Linked DNA regions of Homo sapiens: all the other regions are reported to be linked to region 1. Evidence: microRNA targets listed by miRTarBase, many of them from high-throughput screens and not tested one by one. Region 1 holds a microRNA gene; each other region holds the end of a gene's coding sequence.

What was found. The annotated mature microRNA hsa-miR-6829-3p reads UGCCUCCUCCGUGGCCUCAG and lies in region 1 at 1,466-1,485, shown strand. An mRNA with a match to its seed (bases 2 to 7 or 8) in the 3' UTR can be bound and repressed. Matches are read on the target gene's strand: a 7mer-m8 pairs with bases 2 to 8, a 7mer-A1 pairs with bases 2 to 7 and ends in A, and an 8mer does both.
Region 2: the mRNA of C2CD2L is a reported target of hsa-miR-6829-3p. Seed matches in the 3' UTR shown: 7mer-m8 at 1,439-1,445.
Region 3: miRTarBase lists PKNOX2 as a target of hsa-miR-6829-3p. Seed matches in the 3' UTR shown: 7mer-m8 at 2,041-2,047.
Region 4: the mRNA of TESK2 is a reported target of hsa-miR-6829-3p. Seed matches in the 3' UTR shown: 7mer-A1 at 3,307-3,313.
Region 5: the mRNA of ZNF8 is a reported target of hsa-miR-6829-3p. Seed matches in the 3' UTR shown: 7mer-A1 at 1,964-1,970.

The regions. Positions count from the first base shown.
Region 1 is chr3:195,879,814-195,883,813 of GRCh38, reverse strand. It overlaps MIR6829 (microRNA 6829), which reads left to right and starts at 1,419; the gene lies at 1,419-1,485. It overlaps TNK2 (tyrosine kinase non receptor 2), which reads left to right. Exons shown (of 16, transcript NM_001382273.1): 5 at 505-657; 6 at 1,486-1,763. RefSeq lists an enhancer at 28-528.
Region 2 is chr11:119,115,858-119,120,002 of GRCh38, forward strand. It overlaps C2CD2L (C2CD2 like), which reads left to right. Exons shown (of 14, transcript NM_001290474.2): 14 at 188-2,687. The coding sequence ends at 399. Among named protein-coding and RNA genes, the nearest start is that of HINFP, 3.6 kb to the right of the region's middle.
Region 3 is chr11:125,430,602-125,434,746 of GRCh38, forward strand. PKNOX2 (PBX/knotted 1 homeobox 2) reads left to right here. Exons shown (of 13, transcript NM_001382323.2): 13 at 565-2,788. The coding sequence ends at 791. Among named protein-coding and RNA genes, the nearest start is that of FEZ1, 64 kb to the right of the region's middle. RefSeq lists a silencer at 2,872-3,166.
Region 4 is chr1:45,341,363-45,345,507 of GRCh38, forward strand. TESK2 (testis associated actin remodelling kinase 2) reads right to left here. Exons shown (of 11, transcript NM_007170.3): 11 at 2,521-4,145. The coding sequence ends at 3,478. TOE1 (target of EGR1, exonuclease) reads left to right here. Exons shown (of 8, transcript NM_025077.4): 4 at 111-207; 5 at 587-745; 6 at 1,022-1,281; 7 at 1,481-1,640; 8 at 1,720-2,611. The coding sequence ends at 2,340. Among named protein-coding and RNA genes, the nearest start is that of TOE1, 3.3 kb to the left of the region's middle. RefSeq lists an enhancer at 1-133.
Region 5 is chr19:58,294,984-58,299,128 of GRCh38, reverse strand. ZNF8 (zinc finger protein 8) reads right to left here. Exons shown (of 4, transcript NM_021089.3): 4 at 1-4,145. The coding sequence ends at 3,593. ZNF8-ERVK3-1 (ZNF8-ERVK3-1 readthrough (NMD candidate)) reads right to left here. Exons shown (of 7, transcript NR_144447.1): 4 at 3,548-4,145. Among named protein-coding and RNA genes, the nearest start is that of ERVK3-1, 8.3 kb to the left of the region's middle.

The DNA.
Region 1 (4,000 bases):
GGAGAAACCCCATCTCTACTAAAAATACAAAATTAGCCAGGCGTGGTGGCACCTGCCTGTAATCCCAGCTACTCAGGAGGCTGAGGCAGGAGAATCACTTGAACCCGGGAGGCAGAGGTTGCAGTGAGCTGAGATCACGTCACTGCATTCCAGCCTGGGCGACAAGAGCGAGACTGTCTCAAAAAAAAAAATTCCATTTTATAACATTTGAATATTCTCTCATCATACTGGTTATCTCTTACTTTTTGGTTGGTATTTAAGCCCGGCATTCCCCCAGGAAGGGGAGGTGTGGCCGACGATGGCTCCTGAGGGCCAGCCGTCTGCCCTTCTCCAGCCAGGCCTCACGCAGAGCACGTAAGCCCAGGCACTGGTGACATGCTTACCCACCCAGATGAGGAGCTCACAGGCAGGGATCGTTGAGCCGAGTTGGAGGGTGGAGCAGGTTGGCTCCGCGTGTCTGGGACCTGGCAAGTCCTGAGTCCTTGCAAATCCCGCTCTGGGCAGGTGAGTGTGGCTGTGAAGTGCCTGAAGCCCGATGTCCTGAGCCAGCCAGAAGCCATGGACGACTTCATCCGGGAGGTCAATGCCATGCACTCGCTCGACCACCGAAACCTCATCCGCCTCTACGGGGTGGTGCTCACGCCGCCCATGAAGATGGTGAGTACTGCGGGCGGGAGGGGGCGGGCAGGGAGAGGGCTCCGGTCCCATATGTGTGGTTCGGTTCCTCTCTCCATCCTAAGGTCAGAGGCGCCCTAGATCCTACTTTGGTCCCCCAACCTGATGGAGTAAAGGGGTCCACAGGGGCCCAGCCTGGTACGGGCTGTGTCTGCTGCGGTCCAGTCCGGGTCTGTCTCTGGATTTTGCTGGTGCTCAGTGTCAAGAGAGTTACTCCCATGGGAGGGGCTGGCCACTGAGTTTAATTTGGGGAATTTATGTTTTATTTATCTATTTATTTTGAGATGGAGTCTCACTTTGTCGCCCAGGCTGGAGTGCAATGGCATGATCTAGGCTCACTGCAACCTCGGCCTCCTGGGTTCACGCGATATTCCTGCCTCAGGCTTCCAAGTAGCTGGGATTACAGCCGTGCGCTACCATGCCTGGCTAATTTTTGTATTTTTAGTAGAGACGGGGTTTCACCATGTTGGCCAGGCTGGTCTCAAACTCCTGACCTCAAATGATCCACCCACCTCGGCCTCCCAAAGTGCTGGGATTACAGGCGTGAGCCACCACGTCCAGCTGAGTTTTGGAATTTCTAGCCACTGCCTCTTTGGGCTCCTTCTCTCTAGGCATCAGTTTCCCAAATTGCCTCGAGGGAGAGGCCTGAGAAACTGCAGGACTCCTAGAGGTCCCCAGACAGCAGGCCAGGAAGGTGCGTGCAGCCTGGCTCTGGAAAGCCTTCAGGAAGGGGACTGGGGGCCCAGCGTGGGCTGCTGAGAAGGGGCAGGGTCCTCCAGCTCATTCCTCCTGCCTCCTCCGTGGCCTCAGGTGACAGAGCTGGCACCTCTGGGATCGTTGTTGGACCGGCTACGTAAGCACCAGGGCCACTTCCTCCTGGGGACTCTGAGCCGCTACGCTGTGCAGGTGGCTGAGGGCATGGGCTACCTGGAGTCCAAGCGCTTTATTCACCGTGACCTGGCTGCCCGCAATCTGCTGTTGGCTACCCGCGACCTGGTCAAGATCGGGGACTTTGGGCTGATGCGAGCACTACCTCAGAATGACGACCATTACGTCATGCAGGAACATCGCAAGGTGCCCTTCGCCTGGTGAGGGGCAGGTGCTGCCAGCTCACAGAGTCCCTGCAGACCCAGGCCTCAAAGCTTCTGGGGCTTTCTGGACCCACCACAGCCCCTGGTTTTGCTTGGGCCTGCCCTTGTCTGTTCTAAGCCTGGGGTGCCCTCCTTTGCACCCATTCGCTCACCATCCATCTAGGAATTCTTGAGGGCCCACGTGCCAGGGTCTGGGTGCTGGAAATCACAGGGATACATGCTGTGGGACTCTCCAAGGGGCTTTGCTGGGTGGGGTGATACGGGGATAGATGCTGTGTCCTCTCCAAGGGGCATTGTTGGGGGTCGTGTTTCAGGGATAGATCCTGTGTCCTCTCCAAGGGGCATTGCTGGCGGGGGGGTGTTATAGGGATAAATGCTGTGTCCTCTCCAAAGGGCGTTGCTGGGGGGGGGGTGTTACAAGGATAGATGCTGTGTCCTCTTCAAGGGGCATCGCTGGGGGGGTGTTACAGGGATAGATGCTGTGTCCTCTTCAAGGGGCATTGCTGGGGGGGGTGTTACAGGGATAGATGCCGTGTCCTCTCCAAGGGGCGTTGCTGGGGGGGGTGTTAGAGGGACAGATCCTGTGTCCTCTCCAAGGGGCATCGCTGGGGGCGGGTGTTACAGGGATAGATGCTGTGTCCTCTCCAAGGGGCACTGCTGGGGGGGTGTTACAGGGATAGATGCTGTGTCCTCTCCAAGGGGCACTGCTGGGGGGGTGTTAGAGGGACAGATCCTGTGTCCTCTTCAAGGGGCATTGCTGGCGGGTGGTGTTAGAGGGATAGACACTGTGTCCTCTCCAAGGGGCATCGCTGGGGGCGGGTGTTACAGGGATAGACGCTGTGTCCTCTCCAAGGGGCATTGCTGGGGGGGTGTTACAGGGATAGATGCTGTGTCCTCTCCAAGGGGCACTGCTGGGGGGGTGTTACAGGGATAGATGCTGTGTCCTCTCCAAGGGGCACTGCTGGGGGGGTGTTAGAGGGACAGATCCTGTGTCCTCTTCAAGGGGCATTGCTGGCGGGTGGTGTTAGAGGGATAGACACTGTGTCCTCTCCAAGGGGCATCGCTGGGGGCGGGTGTTACAGGGATAGACGCTGTGTCCTCTCCAAGGGGCATTGCTGGGGGGGTGTTACAGGGATAGATGCTGTGTCCTCTCCAAGGGGCATTGCTGGGGGGCGGGTGTTACAGGGTTAGATGCTGTGTCCTCTCCAAGGGGCATTGCTGGGGGGGGTGTTACAGGGATAGATGCTGTGTCCTCTCCAAGGGGCATTGCTGGGGGGGGTGTTACAGGGATAGATGCTGTGTCCTCTCCAAGGGGCATTGCTGGGGGGGTGTTACAGGGATAGATGCTGTGTCCTCTCCGAGGGTCATTGCTGAGTTAGGTGATACAGGGATATATGCTGTGTCCTCTTCAAGGGGCATTGCTGGGGGGGTGTTACAGGGATAGATGCTGTGTCCTCTCCGAGGGGCATTGCTGGGGGGCGGGTGTTACAGGGTTAGATGCTGTGTCCTCTCCAAGGGGCATTGCTGGGGGGGGGGGTGTTACAGGGATAGATGCTGTGTCCTCTCCGAGGGTCACTGCTGAGTTAGGTGATACAGGGATATATGCTGTGTCCTCTTCAAGGGGCATTGCTGGGGGGGTGTTACAGGGATAGATGCTGTGTCCTCTCCAAGGGGCATTTCTGTGGGGAGGTATTCAAAGGTTTCCTAAAACATCAGGGAAGTTCGCCAGGGAAAGACTCGTTGGTAAGCATGTTCTAGGGAGAGCTAGTGGTAGACAGGCCCAGGCCACAGCAGGCCTTGTAGATGGGCCAGGGCTGCTTACCTGTGCACTAGGGGTGGTACTTGGCCCTGCCCTGGCCCCTGTGTGGGCTTATCCTCTGCTGAGACCATTGTGGTTCTCTGGTGCCAGAGGCACCCAGAGGTCTGTGATCTGCCTGCTTTGAGGCGGGAAGGGTTGTTCCAGTTCTGCTTTCCCAAGCGGTGGCTGTGGGCAACCCTTATGATCCAGGACGCATGGTCATCTTAACGAGCAGCTGGCTTTACACCCAGGGCGAGCAGAGGTCTTAAATTATGCCCGTTGTCCTGGAGTAATTTAGAGCAGCCTCTTTTGTATTCAGGCATCCTGGTTTGCATGGTAAGGTATGAATATAGTTGCCTTTAAACAGCACGATGAAGTGGGCGGGTTATTGTTCTCATTTCACCAAGGAGGATAATGAACCTTAGCGATCTCGAGT
Region 2 (4,145 bases), not on the chromosome of region 1:
TTTCTTTTTTTCACGAAGCCTTATGGAGAAGTATGTTTCTGCTTTCTTTCCTGAGGAAGCCTGGCTTCTGGGCCACGGGACTGATCCTGTCCACATCCTCTTTCCCTCCATTCTCCATCGTGTCTCTGCCCCCGTCTCACCCCACCCCGTGCCCCTCTCTGCCTCAGCTTCCCCTCTTCCCCTGCAGTGAGTTTCCTGCGCAGCGGCACTAAGCTCATCTTCCGCCGGAGGCCTAGGCAGAAGGAAGCTGGCCTGAGCCAATCACACGATGACCTCTCCAACGCAACGGCCACGCCCAGTGTCCGAAAGAAGGCCGGCAGCTTTTCTCGCCGCCTTATCAAGCGCTTTTCCTTCAAATCCAAACCCAAGGCCAATGGTAACCCCAGCCCCCAGCTCTGAGGACCCAGCTCTGAAAGGGCACGAGTTCTCTCAGCCCATTCCCCACCTCCCCTTCCATACCCCTTCCTGGATCTCCAGTGCCTGGGCCAGGAAAGCCCTCTGGGTTCCGGGAAGCCCCGTCCACCCTGGGCCATGGGGCCGGTTGGAAGGATACTTGGAACGGGAAGCACATGAGAGGTGGGCACCCGGTGCCGAGGACATGGACGAGGGACTGGTGGCTGGGAGGGAGAGGAGGGCCCTGTCCGGCATGTGTGGGTATTCCCCAGAAGCATTTGCCTCCTGCTGAGCCTGGTCCCTGAGCGGAGTCCCAGGGTGCTCAGCTCTTCAGCTGACCCTTCTTCCCTTATTTATTCTCTTTTCTATTTATATGTGTGGCTTAGGACCCTCCGTGAACAGATGATAGAGGGCATCTCTCCCAGGTGACCCTTCTTTTCTGTCCCAGGAGGGTGGGTAATTCCCTTTGGGATGGGGCTCCCACACCTCCCTCAGGTCCCCACTCAGACCAGCACCAGTGTCTGCCTCTGAGAATGTTGGCAGCTCACAGAGAGCAGGGCCGGCCCGGGATGGGGGGCAGGTACTCCCCACCTTCCTGCCTCCCCTCCTGCTCCTCATCCCTCCCTCCCCCTTTATTACCGTTTTTTGTACTTGATGCCTTCTCTGTGAGCAGTGGCTCTGTGGGAAGGAGGGAGCCGGGAGCCTGGTGGGAAGCCTTCCCCAGAGAGATGGCTTTAGGGGCTTTATTTAAAGACTGTGATGATGGAGCCACGCAAGGCTGCACCTCTGTGTGTTGGGAGACGATGATGATGTCCATTGCTGTGTGATGGCTTGGAATTTAATTTATTAAAGTCAAATTGGAGTTTATAAACTGGACAACTGGTTATCCTTTGAAAGGCAGTAGGCAGCCAGGCTGTGACATGGATGGTGTGGGAGGATGAGACAGGGGCCCGGATAATGAGGTTGGGTAGATGACACACATTGTGGATCTGCTAAGAAGTTCCTGCAGGGAAGAAGGGGTGTGCAGAGAAAGGATGGAAGAGACAGGAGGCTCTGGAGTATGAAATTGTAGCAAAAAACTCAATCAACTAGTACAGGTTAGTCTTCATTCCCCTTTCTGGAACAGGCTGCTCCTTCTAGGATGTAATGGAGATCAAAGCTTGGACCCTGTAACTAGACTGCCTGCCTGGGTTTGAGTCCCAGCTCTTCTAATTACTTGTGTGACCTTGGGCAAGTTATGTAACCTCTAAGTGCCTCAGTTTTCTCATCTGTAAAATGGGAACTTCAATCATCATGGCTATCATTTGGTTGTGGATGAGAAGTAAATGAAGTGCTGAGTGTTAACTGTTGCCTCAGAAGAAACTGGGAGGGGGAAGTCTTAGAAGTGTTTCAACATAATAAAAGCTCTCTCATTCTGAAATGTGGGCAAATTTCAGGGATTGATAGATCCTAGCAAACTGTGTCCCTGGTTCCCGTGCTTGAGATCTTATACAGGACTTGAACCAGGTAAGCTGCTACAGGATATTGGGCAGAATGCAGGACCAGGAAGCAAGAAAACTGAGTCTGCCACAGACAAACCAAGTGATCTTGAGCAGGCAACTTCTCCTTTGGGGACCTCAGTTTCCTCATATCTAAAATAAGGGTGACCTGGATAAACATTCAGGTCACTTCCAGCCTTGACATTCTATGACTACCTATATCTCAGGGTGTTTAGGGCACATGCCTTTGGGTAGATAGCATGTGGAAATTGTTACTATTCCCCATGCTCCTGTCCACACTACTCACCAAATATGAGATATCCGGGAAGAATGGAGGGTATAGATTTTTTTTTTCAATTAGATAATTTAGTTTTATATATTTGGGGGGACAAGTGCAGGTTTCTTACATGCATATATTGCATGCATAGAGGTGAAGTCTGGGCTTTTTTTAGTGTGCGCATCGCCCAAATAGTGAACATCATACCCAATAGGTAGTTTTTCAACCCTCACCCTCCTCCCACCTTCTCACCTTTCATAGTCTCCGATGTCTTTTATTCCACTCTATATGTCCATGTATACCCATTATTTAGCTCCCACTTATAAATGAGAATATGCCATATTTGACTTTGTTTCTGAGTTATTTCACCGAGGATAATGGCCTCCAGTTCCACCCATGTTGCTGGAAAACACATGATTTCATTCTTTTTTATGGCTGAGTAGTATTCCACTGTGTGTGTGTGTGTTGGGCGATGATAATGATGTCCATTGCTGTGTGACAGCTTGGAATTTAATTTATTAAAGTCAAGTTGGAGTTTATAAACTGCATTTTCTTTATCACTCACTACATTAACTACGTTTTCTTTATCCAATCCTCCATTGATGGACACATCGATTTGGTTGATTTTTATGTAGTGAAATGTTCAATTCTAAGTCATGAAAATTCAAAGAGATTTTTCAAGCTGTTTCCCCAGTCTAAGAAATGTAACTCTTAGTGGTTCACAGAGGAACAGTTTTTCTACCAGTATGACACGACAACCAAACACAGTGAACTTGTGATTGCACAAGAAACTTTTGTTGATGGGAGAACAGGTATTCAGAGTTCTACAGGACCTGGGGAATGAGTAGATGGTAACTGGAATCTGTATTGAGCTTCCAGTACTGAGCTGCCCAGAGTTCCATGGAATCACATATTTTAGTGAAGAAGAGCCTGATCACGTTTCAAAAATAGGGAATTTTTAAATGAATGAAAAAAATACGAAACATATTTTCATCAACTTAATCCATTTCACACTTTCAGAAGGGATCCACAGCTTTTAATGAGTATGAATTATGCTTTCAGTTTTTGTGGCAGCTTTTAAAGAACAAATCTCAGGATATGTCTGAATTACCCAGCCAAAATTGTGGCTTGTTTTCAAGAGAAGCAGATTGAGATAGAAGTAAACTATGCTAGACAGAATGACACTGCTTTAAATTTTGGAAACATATATATGGATCCCAGAGCAATCCTGAAATTTTTGCTCTGTAACCTATGTTTGAGTTTACACAGCTCTGTGAATGAACTTTTTCTTCATAAAATTGCTAAATAAAGCTAAAAGCTATTTTCAGTGGTGTAAATCTGAATTAAAATGAGGATGGCATTTCATGAAGTACTACTATATGCATTTTTGAATGAATAAAGTTGGTAAGATATATTTTGTTACTTTTGAATTACATTTTTTAAAACGCTTTTTTTTTTTTTTTGAGACAGAGTCTCTCTCTGTTGCCCGGGCTGGAGTGCAGTGGAGTGATCTTGGCTCACTGCAACCTCTGCCTCTCAGGTTCAAGCGATTTTCCTGCCTCAGCCTCCTGAGTAGCTGGCACTACAGGCACCCACCACCACACCTGGCTAATTTTTGTATTTTTTGTAGAGATGGGGTTTCGCCATGTTGGCCAGGCTGGTTTCGAATTCCTGACCTCATGATCCGCCCGCCTCGGCCTCCCAAAGTGCTGGGATTACAGGCATGAGCCACCGCGCCCTGCAAAACCCTATTTTAAAATAGGGACCAAGTTATAACTCACTGTTGTTAAAACCAAAATTTATGCACAAGTATGACTTTACTATCTTAATGGCATTTTAAATTTTATTTTATATATATTGAACATTTAATGTGTTTTCTGATTGTACAAATTATATAGGTTTATTTTTAGATTAGAAGATACAGAAAACTACAATGCAATAAAATATCAGTCTTAACCAACTTTATTAAGGTATATTATTTAACAAGTATGTCTTGA
Region 3 (4,145 bases), not on the chromosome of region 1:
TGAGCCAAGCATTTTATAGCTTGGCATATGAAGATAGCTCTGTATGGGGAGTGGAGCGTAGGTGTGCGTGTGTGCACACATAACCTCATGCACACGTGTATGTGTATGGTTGTGCACAGGTTCCTTTGTGATGAGCCATCTTATGGGTTATGATGGGAAAAAAAAAAACAGATTTAGGGGGCTGGACCAGCCTGGGAGAAAATTCCAACTCTGTCATCGCTGACAATGTCATCTTGAGCTAATGACTTAACTGTCTGAGACAGAATGGGGATAATAATACCTGCCTTACAGAATTGTTAGAAAGTCAAAAGTGGCCAACACATAAAGAAAATGTGCAGTGAACGGTGGCTGGGAGTGCTGCTTCCTGAGATGGGGCAGGGAGTAGCTGACTAGTGAATGGATGGGAGACTTCATACCAGGGCATTGTCCAGCTCAGGCTTGGACAGCTCTAAAAACAAGGAGTTCACTGCTCTATGAGCCAGTCCATTAAACCCTGTCCAACACAGAGGTGCTGGCCCTGACCAGCAGCCCCTGCCTCGTCCTGACCCTTGCTTTCTCTCGCAGGTTCCATCAACTTGGACAACCTGCAGTCCCTGTCCTCAGACAGTGCCACCATGGCCATGCAGCAGGCTATGATGGCTGCACACGATGACTCATTGGATGGGACAGAAGAAGAGGATGAGGATGAGATGGAAGAGGAGGAGGAGGAGGAGCTGGAGGAGGAGGTCGACGAGCTGCAGACGACAAATGTCAGCGACCTGGGCTTGGAACACAGTGACTCCCTGGAGTAGTCGGGCAGCCCAGATGGCACTGATCACTGAGCAGGAGAGGAGTGTCGCCGGGAGGCCTTCAGGGTGGGGGGGAAGGGGACATGGGCAGGAAGCACCGAGGGAGTTGGGCCCTAGCTTCCCCAAATCAGTAGCTTGAAGAAAGGCAAAGGAGACACCTGTTCCTTCCCAACCACCGAGCTTCAATGAGGACCCCAGCCCCACTTCCCTGGAACTGCCGAGGACTCTGTTTGGCGGGGCCAGTCGAGCAGCCTGTGTGGAAAGACAGGAGTGAGATCTGGACTCACCAAATCCCTGAGGATAGATGGCACCCATGGCCCCCACCCACGGAAGGACTTGAGTTGTTTACAAGCCCTGCACTGAGGCAGATTGGTGCTGTTCGCAGAGTAGGCCTTTGCCCGGGGGCAGACTTAGAAGGAAGGGGAGAGACAAAGGGGGACTGAGTTTCATCCCCAGAAGTTTCTCAGCTCCTTTGACAGACATTCAAGGGCAGGAGGGAGCCCCAAAGCATAACCAGTGGCCAGAGGAGTGGGAGGGCCTGAGGCATCACATCTTGCAGATCAGAATGGGATGGAATCCACCAGGCTCCAGCTCATCCCTCCAAGGCCCTGTCTCTGCGCACAGCAACCATGGACATGGGAGAAAGGGATGGGAGCCACAGTGCCCTTCACTCTCTCCTGGAAACCAACTGTAAGCTGGTGGGCTCAACCTGTGGGAGGTTAAGAGGAGTCCCTTCTGGGTTGACTCCAAGAGCCAAGGAGATGGCAGACCCTGGGCTAGGAACCATATGGAGGTGACTTTGAGGCCACAGCTGTCCCTAGGTGATCACAGAACTTAGCTCCTTTAACAACAGGACAATGGTTTTTTACCCTAGATGTTCCCACCTTCAGTGCTCCACGCCCTCCATAGACCTTCAGAGAAGGTGAAACCAGGTTATCTGGGAATCTTTCCAGCCCGCAGGTCGCCACGGCCATCCCTTTGCTCCCAGCCTGGCTCCATCAGCCTCCAGCTTCCTTTCTTCATTCTGTCCTTCAGGGAAGGCAGAAGAAACATTGGAAAGCATCTAGTCCAGTGGGAAGCCAGGGGTTGGAGAAGGTGCTACATCCCTCTTCCCATCAATATCCTAAATGTGGGGGAGGGCCCAGAGAATGGCACCCAAGAGCCTGCGGGGATGCCCATCCCACACACCCCACCCAGCTGTTCTAACCCTGCTATCCACAGCCCTGGAGGAACTGGGGCTCCTGGAAGGAGGAGGAGGCTCTCCACTGTCCACCCTAACACATACCCTCCCACCCACCTTCCAGACCCCCTTGGTTGGCACCCTCTCCTCCGGTTCCCTCTCACCCCATGGCTGTGAATGACAGGACAGGTCACACGTGTGTTTTCCATTGGGTTTAATTTAATGGACGTGCAGTTTCATTTGTAAATTGTGCATTGGCCACCTCCTTCAGTGGCAGGATGTGAGTGGCTACCTGGCTCAACTGGAGGGGACCCCTTGGGCCCTCTGGGGCTTCCCCTCCCCCACCTGGTTGGGGTAGAGCAAAAGGATGGTCACTCTTCCGAGGTCTCCCTGAAATGAATGTATTTCTCCCCCAAAAGAGCTGATATTTAATGTTTTAATAAGGATTTTTGAGAAACAAATAACCTTATTTATAATCTGGGTGATCCAATCATTTTTTACTCCCTTTTGATGCCATACATAGAGGAAAGTCTAGCTTTTTTGGCGTGAGACTTTTGCAATGTGCAGTGGGATAAAATGCATTTCCTTTTCTGGTTCGTTTTTCTTGTTAACACGCGCACACAGACACACACACACACCGTTCCACTCACCACCTGGACAGGCGTCCCCCAGCACGGACACACTGGCACACAGGTGCCCACATCTCTTCCTCTCAGCCCCTCCACCTGCCTAATGTTATGCAACCTCCTTCTGATGTATCCACCAAACCAGTACTGAATGTGGCCGAGACGTTTTCAGTAAATCTTATTACCTACCGTAACCCTGGTGCACAATTCTCTTTCTGTGGTTGCTGTGGCAATCCTTTGCTCTTTTCATGGGACCAGAGGCCAGACAAAATTTGGAGGCCTCAGTATACACCTGACTACCCAGGGAAGGGGACAAGGTAGATGTGCGTCCTGCGTGAGCTCAGCTGCCCTGTCTGGGGAGGAAGAGCCAATTTCAGCACACTCACCTTGTGTGCGGCCGGTTGTAAGGCAGAGCTAGGGAGAGAAGGCAAGGAAGCTCTGCACTGCCCTCTCCTGACAGCTTCCCCGACCGCAGCGGAAGCTATGAATCTGGTCCCTCTTGTCCACCATACTCCACCTCCCTCAAAGGCTTTTGCTTTCCTGTCTCCATTCCCGGCCTTGAATCCCAGGGATCAGCACCATAATCCCCCAGGCAAGAAGAAACTCAGGCAGCTGATCTCCACACAGAAGTGAGAGGCAGGCCTTCTTGTCAGCTCCAGACGAGAGGGTACCTTCTTTAGCCACACTTGCTGAGAGGTCTGGGGCATCTGTTTAGAAGCAGGAAGGGAGTGCCTTGTTCATGTTCAGGAATGCTGGAGAGTTTGCACGTACTGGCAGATCACCCCATGGCCAGGTGGAAGATAGGGAAGCCAGTGGTTGGTTACACAGGCGAAGTGGGCTCTGACCAGCTCTGGTGGAGTTCCCTGCATCACTGCCCTCAGGGAGCCCAACATCTCTCCCCCTCCTCACACCTGGAGAGAGTTCTGCAAACCCTACAGAAACCCCGCCTCTCTAGGTAGAGGAAGAAAATCTTAAGAACTGCACGATGATTGGAACCTCACCTCCAGAGCTGGGAAGACAACAGTCCTTTAAGACAGTGGTTTCTAAGGAACACACTGTTGAAAGATATGCTACCAAAAAAAAAAAAAAAAATCCATGCCCAAATTAGCCTAAGATTAACTGCATATTCTGTTTTGTTAGTAGAGTTTCATCATGCACATTATTATACTAAAGGCTCTAAAAAGTCCTACAGGAAAGAAACCTGTTGAACTTTGTTTCAATTGTTCCGAGATTTGCTCCACCTCCCTTTTTTTCAAGTAATATCTATTCAAGTTATACCAATATTCCACAAAACACACTTTAGGGAACACTATTCTAAAGAAATTGCAGAGTAGCCTGTCCTACACTCTCCCCGCCAAGTTTTTCTATCAAGTTCTGCCAGCCATCTTTTCAACCACGCTGCCAACTGAAAGTGGGTTTCTTTTTTCTTTTCTTTTTTTTTTTGAGATGGAGTTTTGCTCTTGTTGCCCAGGCTGGAGGGCTGGAGTGCAATGGCACGATCTCGGCTCACCGCAACCTCTGCCTCCCGGGTTCAAGCGATTCTCCTGCCTC
Region 4 (4,145 bases), not on the chromosome of region 1:
TCTTTAGTGCCAGCCCTCAACTGTGGAGTGGGGGGGTCACAGACCTGGGTGGTTTGGGTCCTTCATAAGGCTAACTCCTAGCCACAGCAACCCCCATACCCAACCCCAAGGTGCATTGAGGAACGTTACAAGGCCGTGTGTCATGCTGCCAGGACCCGTTCTATCCTTTCCCTGGGCCTCGCCTGCTTCAAGCGGCAGCCAGACAAGGTATGAGCTGATCTCACCCCAATCCTAGGTGTGGCTGTGGGGTGGAGGGTAGAGAGATTCTAGGGAACATCAGATAGGAAGCATTTCTCTCCCAAATCTTTTTTTTTGACTTGATAGTTTTTTTTTTTTTATTTGAATAGGTTTATGGGGAACAGGTGGTGTTTGGTTAAATGAGTAAGTTCTTTAGTGGCAATTTCTGAGATTTTGGTGCACCTATCACCCAGTGTACACTGTGCCCAATGCGTAGTCTTTTATCCCTCACCTGCCTCCATCCTTTCCCCCCTGAGTCCCCAGAGTCCATTGTATCATTCTTAAGCTTTTGCATCCTCCTAGCTTGGCTCTCTGAAATCTTGATATAGCAGACTTCTCTTTCTCCCAGGGTGAACATTCCTATCTGGCTCAAGTGTTCAATCTCACTCTGCTGTGCATGGAGGAGTATGTCATAGAACCAAAGTCTGTGCAGTTCCTGATACAGCATGGCTTCAACTTCAACCAGCAGTATGCCCAAGGCATCCCCTACCATAAGGGCAATGACAAGGTAGGCCTCTAGCCTCCCTAGCCTTGAGTCTGCCCTTTCTGTGACTTTATTTCTTCCTACCCTAGGCTGGATGTCTGGGGAGAATCTGCTTCTTAGGGAGTATGGGGAATCACTAGTGACAGGGCTTGGGAAACAAGACTGGTATGAGGAGGGTGGGCAGCATTGGGTAAGGTAGAGAGAGAGCGTTCCAAGTGGGGAAGTCTGGGATAAGTGCCCAGCAGAAGAGGCTCCCTGGGGGACTCTGTCCTCCTCATTGACCCCTTTACTTTCATCTAGGGTGATGAGAGCCAGAGCCAGTCAGTACGGACCCTATTCCTGGAGCTAATCCGAGCCCGCCGGCCCCTGGTGCTACACAATGGCCTTATAGACTTGGTGTTCCTGTACCAGAACTTCTATGCACACCTCCCTGAGAGTCTGGGAACCTTCACCGCTGACCTGTGTGAGATGTTCCCAGCAGGCATTTATGACACCAAATATGCTGCTGAGTTTCATGCCCGTTTCGTGGCCTCCTACTTAGAATATGCCTTCCGGAAATGGTGAGGAAATGGTTGAGGGAAAGGGGTGGGGCCTGATACGAGTTTATTTCATTCACTTAAGATATTTATTGAGCTCCTACCATGTGCCCAGGCAGTGTTTTAGGTGCTGAGGATTCAGCAGTGAACAAAACAGACCACAAAACCCTGCTCTTATGGAGCTTATATGCTAGTGGACCATTACCCTCTTGCGCTGTTGCAGTGAACGGGAAAATGGGAAGCAGCGGGCAGCTGGCAGCCCACACCTTACCCTGGAGTTCTGCAACTATCCTTCCAGCATGAGGGACCATATTGATTACCGCTGCTGCCTGCCCCCAGCAACCCACCGTCCTCATCCCACCAGCATCTGTGACAACTTCTCGGTGAGAGCACCCACCTGTTTCTTGGGAGGGAAGGTTCTGATGCCTGGAGCCTCTTTCTAAGCCTCTTTCCCACCCCTAGGCTTATGGCTGGTGCCCCCTGGGACCACAGTGTCCTCAGTCTCACGATATTGACCTTATCATTGACACTGATGAGGCTGCGGCAGAGGACAAGCGGCGACGGCGACGACGTAGGGAAAAACGGAAGAGGGCTTTATTGAACCTACCGGGGACACAGACCTCTGGGGAAGCTAAGGATGGTCCTCCCAAGAAGCAGGTCTGTGGGGATAGCATCAAGCCTGAAGAAACCGAGCAGGAGGTGGCTGCCGATGAAACTAGGAACCTGCCTCACTCCAAGCAAGGCAACAAAAATGACTTAGAGATGGGGATTAAGGCAGCAAGGCCTGAAATAGCTGATAGAGCTACCTCAGAAGTGCCAGGGAGCCAAGCCAGTCCTAACCCAGTGCCTGGGGATGGATTGCACCGGGCTGGTTTTGATGCCTTTATGACAGGTTATGTGATGGCCTATGTGGAAGTGAGCCAGGGACCGCAGCCCTGCAGCTCTGGACCCTGGCTCCCTGAATGCCACAATAAGGTATATTTGAGTGGCAAAGCTGTACCCCTCACAGTGGCCAAGAGCCAGTTCTCTCGTTCCTCCAAAGCCCACAATCAGAAGATGAAGCTCACTTGGGGCAGTAGCTGATGCAACTTCCACCTTGCTCTCAGGTGGAACAGAGGTATTTTGGGTCTCTCTAGCCTGAAATGTCATCCTCAACTGCTACTGAGTTTAGGGGAGGGGGAATGTCTTGACAGACATCACTGCATTGCCCTGGACCGCCTCCTTTATCCCAGTGTTTGAGGTACAAGTAAGAAGGCTGACCAGCACCTGTAACACTGACTTTATTTTTAAGTCTGAAAATGTCTTGGGAAAGTTTTACAAAAAAAAAAATCAACAGAAGCAAGTTATGAAAATATTTGACCAGCTTCATCTTTGGTTATTTCTTATTGCAGCTCTGTAAGGACAGACTGTTCCCAAAGCTCCAGCCATGGCAGGAAGGGAAGCAAATCAGTCCCTGTATAAACCATTTAACCAATTGAATGTATCACATGTTGATAAATACATAGAAGCAGGCCCTAGGGCCTACAAAACCAGCCCCACTCCCAACCACAAGGTTGAAAGTCTTATGGGGCAGAACATTAAGACTCCTTTATAAATATGAAAATAGATTAATCAACAGGAAAAGGTCTTTGAATAGGTTAGCTAAGAGCCATGACCACCACGCTGCCTTGCTGTCCCCTTGCATAGAAATGTAGTGACGTGGTCTGACCATGCAGTAAGTGCAAACAGCAATTACTCAAATGTCTTAGAATACTGGCAAGAAGCACCCCAATATTCAGGTCTGGGAAACAGCCATGACCATTACGGCCTCTTGATCAGCTCCATGTTCCACTCAGTAGCTTATATGCCCCAAGAAAAGGCAAGAGACAGACCTGGGGTGGGGAAAGAACCGGGGTAATAGCTGCCTGCCAGCTCAGCCTAGAACTAGACATCCTCTGGTCCTATCTGGGGAAGTACACTGGAGAGGGTCTGGTGGGAGGCAGACCTCCTTGCTGGATTTCAGAGGCTTGGTATCAGCTGTTGGCCCTAACTAGGAAGGCCTCTCACTGCTGCCTCCCGTCATACACAGCCAATGGGCACTGGGAGCCCAGAAGTTGAGCCTGGCTTGGCCTAGCCTGCCTGCTCTGTAGGCTCCAGGGAAGAATCAAGGCTGTGCACCTAGGGGGCCATATGGTTTCAGCTGAAGGTCCATCCCCAAGGTGAGGCAGGGACTAAACCCCCTCACCCATCCTGCTTTCCCTGGGTTTGCAGGCCTATGCCTGAGGTGGAGAAGGTGGCTGGAGTTGAGCCTGCTGGCCTTTCTTCTACCTCCATCTCCTCAGAAGCACCCGCAGGGCATGGACTGGTCCCCTGGGGCCTGGACCCAAAACCATTTTCTTCCTGGAGAATGGAGCAGTCCATAGCCTCATGGGCTTGAGCAGCTGGTAGGGCAGATGCCCGGAATGGTGGGATCTCTTTAACTCTGTACTTGAGACTACTTAGGCGTGGTGGGGGCCCATCAGATAGCGATTCTTCCCGGCCCACAAATGGACAAGCCTCTTGATGCAAGAACTCAGGCGAACCAGGCAAGGAACGCCACCGGCGAATAGGTGGGGCCAGGGGCTCCTGCCAGTCAGCCAGGGGCATAGTTCCGGGCCCTGGTGCATCCAGGTCAAATACCAGAGAGATGACAGACTTGCTGGGCAGGTCAAAAAACTTGATCTTGCCCCCCATGAGGTCCTGGCGAGCACTAAAAGGGTTGACTTTGGGGGTGCGGGCAGCACCATCTCGTGGCCGGTAGTATGGGTCCAAGACACTCACTGTACGTGGGGGCTTACGGGAAAAGATATCTGACTGGCTTCGAGACAGCCAGATGGTACGTCTTGGGCATGGTGACTTGTGGGGGATCT
Region 5 (4,145 bases), not on the chromosome of region 1:
AAAAAAAAAAAATTGCTGTTTGGCAGGGTGCATTGGCTCACACCTGTAATCCTAGCACTTTGGATGGCCAAGGTGGGAGGATCGCTTGAGCCCAGTTTGAAACTGGCCTAGGCAATGTAGTAAAACCCCATCTCTACAAACAATTAAGAAATCTGCTGAGTGTGGTGGTGCATGCCTGCAGTCCCAGCTACAGGGGCGGCTGAGGCAGGAGAATTGCTTGAACCTGGGAGGTTGCAGTGAACCACGTGACAGAGCAAGTCTCCATCACAAAAAAAAAAAAGAAAAAGAAAAAAGAAAAATTCCAACCAAATGCACTGTGTGGATCTTGTTTAGATTATGATTACTATGAAACAAATAGAAAACAAAATTTATGAGGCAACCCAGAACATCTGAACACTAGGTATTTGATGATATCTGTTTAGATGTGATAATGACAATATAGTTCTACTTGAGATTTAACAAAATTAATTTTTCCCGTTTCATCACAGAAATTCAGTGAAAGTAGGCCAGGCACGGTGGCTCATGCCTGTAATGCCAGCATTTTGGGAGACTGAGGCGGGCAGATTACTTGAGGTCATGAGTTTGAGACCAGCCTGGCCAACATGGTAAAACCCCATCTCTACTAAAAATACAAAAATTAGCCGGGTGTGGTAGCGCACACCTGTCATCCCAGCTACTTAGAGGGCTGAAGCATGAGAACTGCTTGAACCCGGGAGGCGGAGGTTGCAGTGAGCCAAGATTGTGCCACTGCACTCCAGCCTGGGCGACAGAGCAATACTCCATCTCAAAAAGAAAAAGAGGGCCAGGCGCAGTGGCTCATGCCTGTAATCCCAGCACTTTGGGAGGCCGAGGTGGGCGGATTATGAGGTCAGAAGATCGACACCATCCTGTCTAACATGGTGAAACCCCATCTCTACTAAAAATACAAAAAAGTAGCTGGGCAAGATGGCGCACACCTGTAGTCCCAGCTACTCGGGAGGCTGAGGCAGGAGAATGGCGTGAACCGTGGAGGTGGAGGTTGCAGTGAGCCGAGATCACGCCATTGCACTCCAGCCTGGGCGACAGAGCGAGACTCCGTCTCAAAAGAAAAAAAAAAAAAAGAAAAGAAAAGAAATTAAGTGAAATTAGCTTTTCTTTTTCTTTACTGCATTTCCCAGTGGAGAAGAATATGAACAACCAACCTCAGGGCTACTGCCCTGCTTTGAACTCAGGCTCAGCAGTTTTACCTGCCATTGCTTTCACACTATCAGTGCACAGCAAAAATGTGAAATGACAGCTTAGTATGATTGTGAAAATGGTTTTGTCCCAGTGGACAAACATGGTTATATATATATCCAGGGAAGGAGAATGGTGGGGAGGTAGATGGGAGTACCAGCAAAAATATATGACTCATGTTTGAAAATGTCCACAATACATCCTTAAAGGTTACTCAGAAAAATAAGTGGCTGGGCACAGTGGCTCATGCCTATAATCTCAACACTTTGGGACGCCAAGGTTCGAGACCAGCCTAGGCAACACAGTGAGACCCTGTCTCTGCAAAAAATAAAAAAAATCAGGAATGGTGGCACATGCCTGTGGTCCCAGCTACTTGGGAGGCTGGGGTGGGAGGATCACTTGAGCCCAGGAGGTCGAGGCTGCCAAGTGAGCAGTGATTACAACACTGACTCCAGCCTGGGCAAAAGAGTGAGACTCTGTCTCAAAAAAAAAAAAAGGATTATCTTCCTTATTTCACATCAATTATGAATGCTGCAAAACCGTAAAGGATGTACTAAAAAGTACATCATGTATAAACTAGCTAATGATGCCATCTGTTAAAATCAAGCTTATATGATTTCTAGTCTAGTCCAGCCCTGATTAATCAATTTGAAGGTTTTTTTTCTTTTCTTTTTTTTTTCTGAGACAGAGTCTTGCTCTGTCACCCAGGCTGGAGTGCAGTGGTGCAATCTCGGTTCACTGAAACCTCTGCCTCCCAGGTTCAAGCGATTCTCGTGCCTCAGCCTCCCCCAGGTAGCTAGAATTACAGGCGCATGTCACCACACTTGGCTAATTTGTGTATTTTTAGTAGAGATGGGGTTTCGCCATGGGCCCAGGCTAGTCTCAAACTCCTGACCTCAAAGGATCCGCCCTCCTCAGCCTCCCACAGTGCTGGGATCACAAGCGTGAGCCACCACAGCTGGCTGCAAGTTTTAAAAATGTCAGCTACATTTCTGGGCTGGGTTTATACCCAGGTGGCTTCTCCACCTTGGCACTATTGACATTTGAGCTAGAGAATCCTTTGTTGAGGAGCTGTCCCGGGCACTAAAGGATGTTGAGCAGCGTCCCTGGCCTCTACCCACTACATGACGGCGGCACCCTTCCTCCAGGCACAGCAACCAAAAATGTCCCTAGATGTCACCAAATGTGCCCTGGAGGCAAAAGCACCACCAGTTAAGAACCTCTGGCTCAGCTGGGCATAGTGGCTCATGCCTGTAAACCCAGCACTTTGGGAGGCCGAGGTGGGTGGATCACGAGGTCAGGAGTTTGAGATCAGCCTGGCCAACACCCCATTTCTACCAAAAATACAAAAATTAGCTGGGCGTGGTGGCAGGTGCGTGTAATCCCAGCTACTCGGGGGACTAAGGCAGGAGAATTGCTTTAACCTGGGAGGCGGAGGTTGTGGTGAGCAGACTGCGCCATTGCACTCCAGCCTGGGTGACGGAGCGAGACTCCATCTCAGACAAAAAACAAAAAAAAGAACTTCTGGCTCATAGCAACACCAGATGTTTTTCAAGAGGAGCTGTGACACTCCCCTGCACGGAATGCTGTGAAATTTCGTGGGGGCTGGTCACGTAATTGGGTTGGGGGTGTGGTTGAAATGTGGGCAGGAGCCATGCATGCTGCCAAGATGGTGAGGAACAGAACTGCCCCCAGTGGACCACATCAACAGATGTGGAATAAGCAGTTTTCAGGGTATGAACTGAGAACCTAACTGGACTTCACACATAAGCACAAACTAATTGCTGCATGCTTGGAATTTACCCAGAATTTCCCAGAAATGCAATAGCATATTATGTTGTTAAAAACTTTTCCAAGAGTTAGTCACTACTTTGGAAGGTCACGTTCCACATGGGAAGGCCCCTCACAGTATTGCCATGGTCAACATCATACCCTCTACCAGTCCACAAGCAACAGGCTATTGCCCTAGGTCTCCTGGCAAAATTGGGCCCACAGTGACAAGGAGAAATACTGCACCAAGTCAGTACACGTTACTCTACAATTTACTCTACCATAAATTACTTTCATTTTAATGATCCTTTACAAAATGGGGCCGCATATTGATTTTTTTTGACATTACACAGGTGGGTAGGTTATATTACCTGTGAACTCACTGTGGTGTAATGGAAGGAATGTCACAAAATATGTCGCTAAAGAGGGCACTGAGTTTGATAGATTTGGGACCAACCAACCTCGGGTGCTTGGGAAGCATCATTTCCTTAGAAAGTCAGAAGTCACCCATGACATTTCTACCCCCAGCCCCTCCTTCCATGAGTACACTATGTGGACTTACCACATTTTTTACTTGTGGTTAAAAGTCATCAGCAAAGTTTCTCTCCTATGTGGATTCTCTGATGTCAAATAACATGGAAGCACCCACAGAAGGCTCTTCCACCCCAATAACGTGCACAGGGTTTTTCTCTTGCATGATTTTTTGGATGTCAAACAAAGCCAGGGCTCTGCTTTCCGGCTGCCCTGCCTTTGCTCCGCCTGCAGAGCTCTTTCTGGAGTTCGGGTGTTGATGCTGAACCAGGTGTGAGTTCCTGCTCGAGGATTGTTCACGCCGCCGGCTTCGCCCATGGGGCTGCTCCTCTCTGGTGTGAGTTATCTGGTGCCGGATGAGGTGAGAGCTCTGAATGAAACACTTCCCACACTGATTACATTTGAAGGGTCTGTCGCTTCGGTGAGTCCTCTCATCTTGACTCAAAGGTGGGTCACAGCCCAGGGCTTCTGTCCATTCATGCTTTGTGAGAGCTGGCGTCTGCTCAAAGATCAGCCTCTGGCGGCACTCAAAGGGCTTCTCCCCCGCGTGCTTCCGCTGGTGCTGGGCCAGGGATGAGCTGTGCCTGAAGCCCTTCCCGCAGTGGTTACACTCGTAGGGCCTCTCCTCG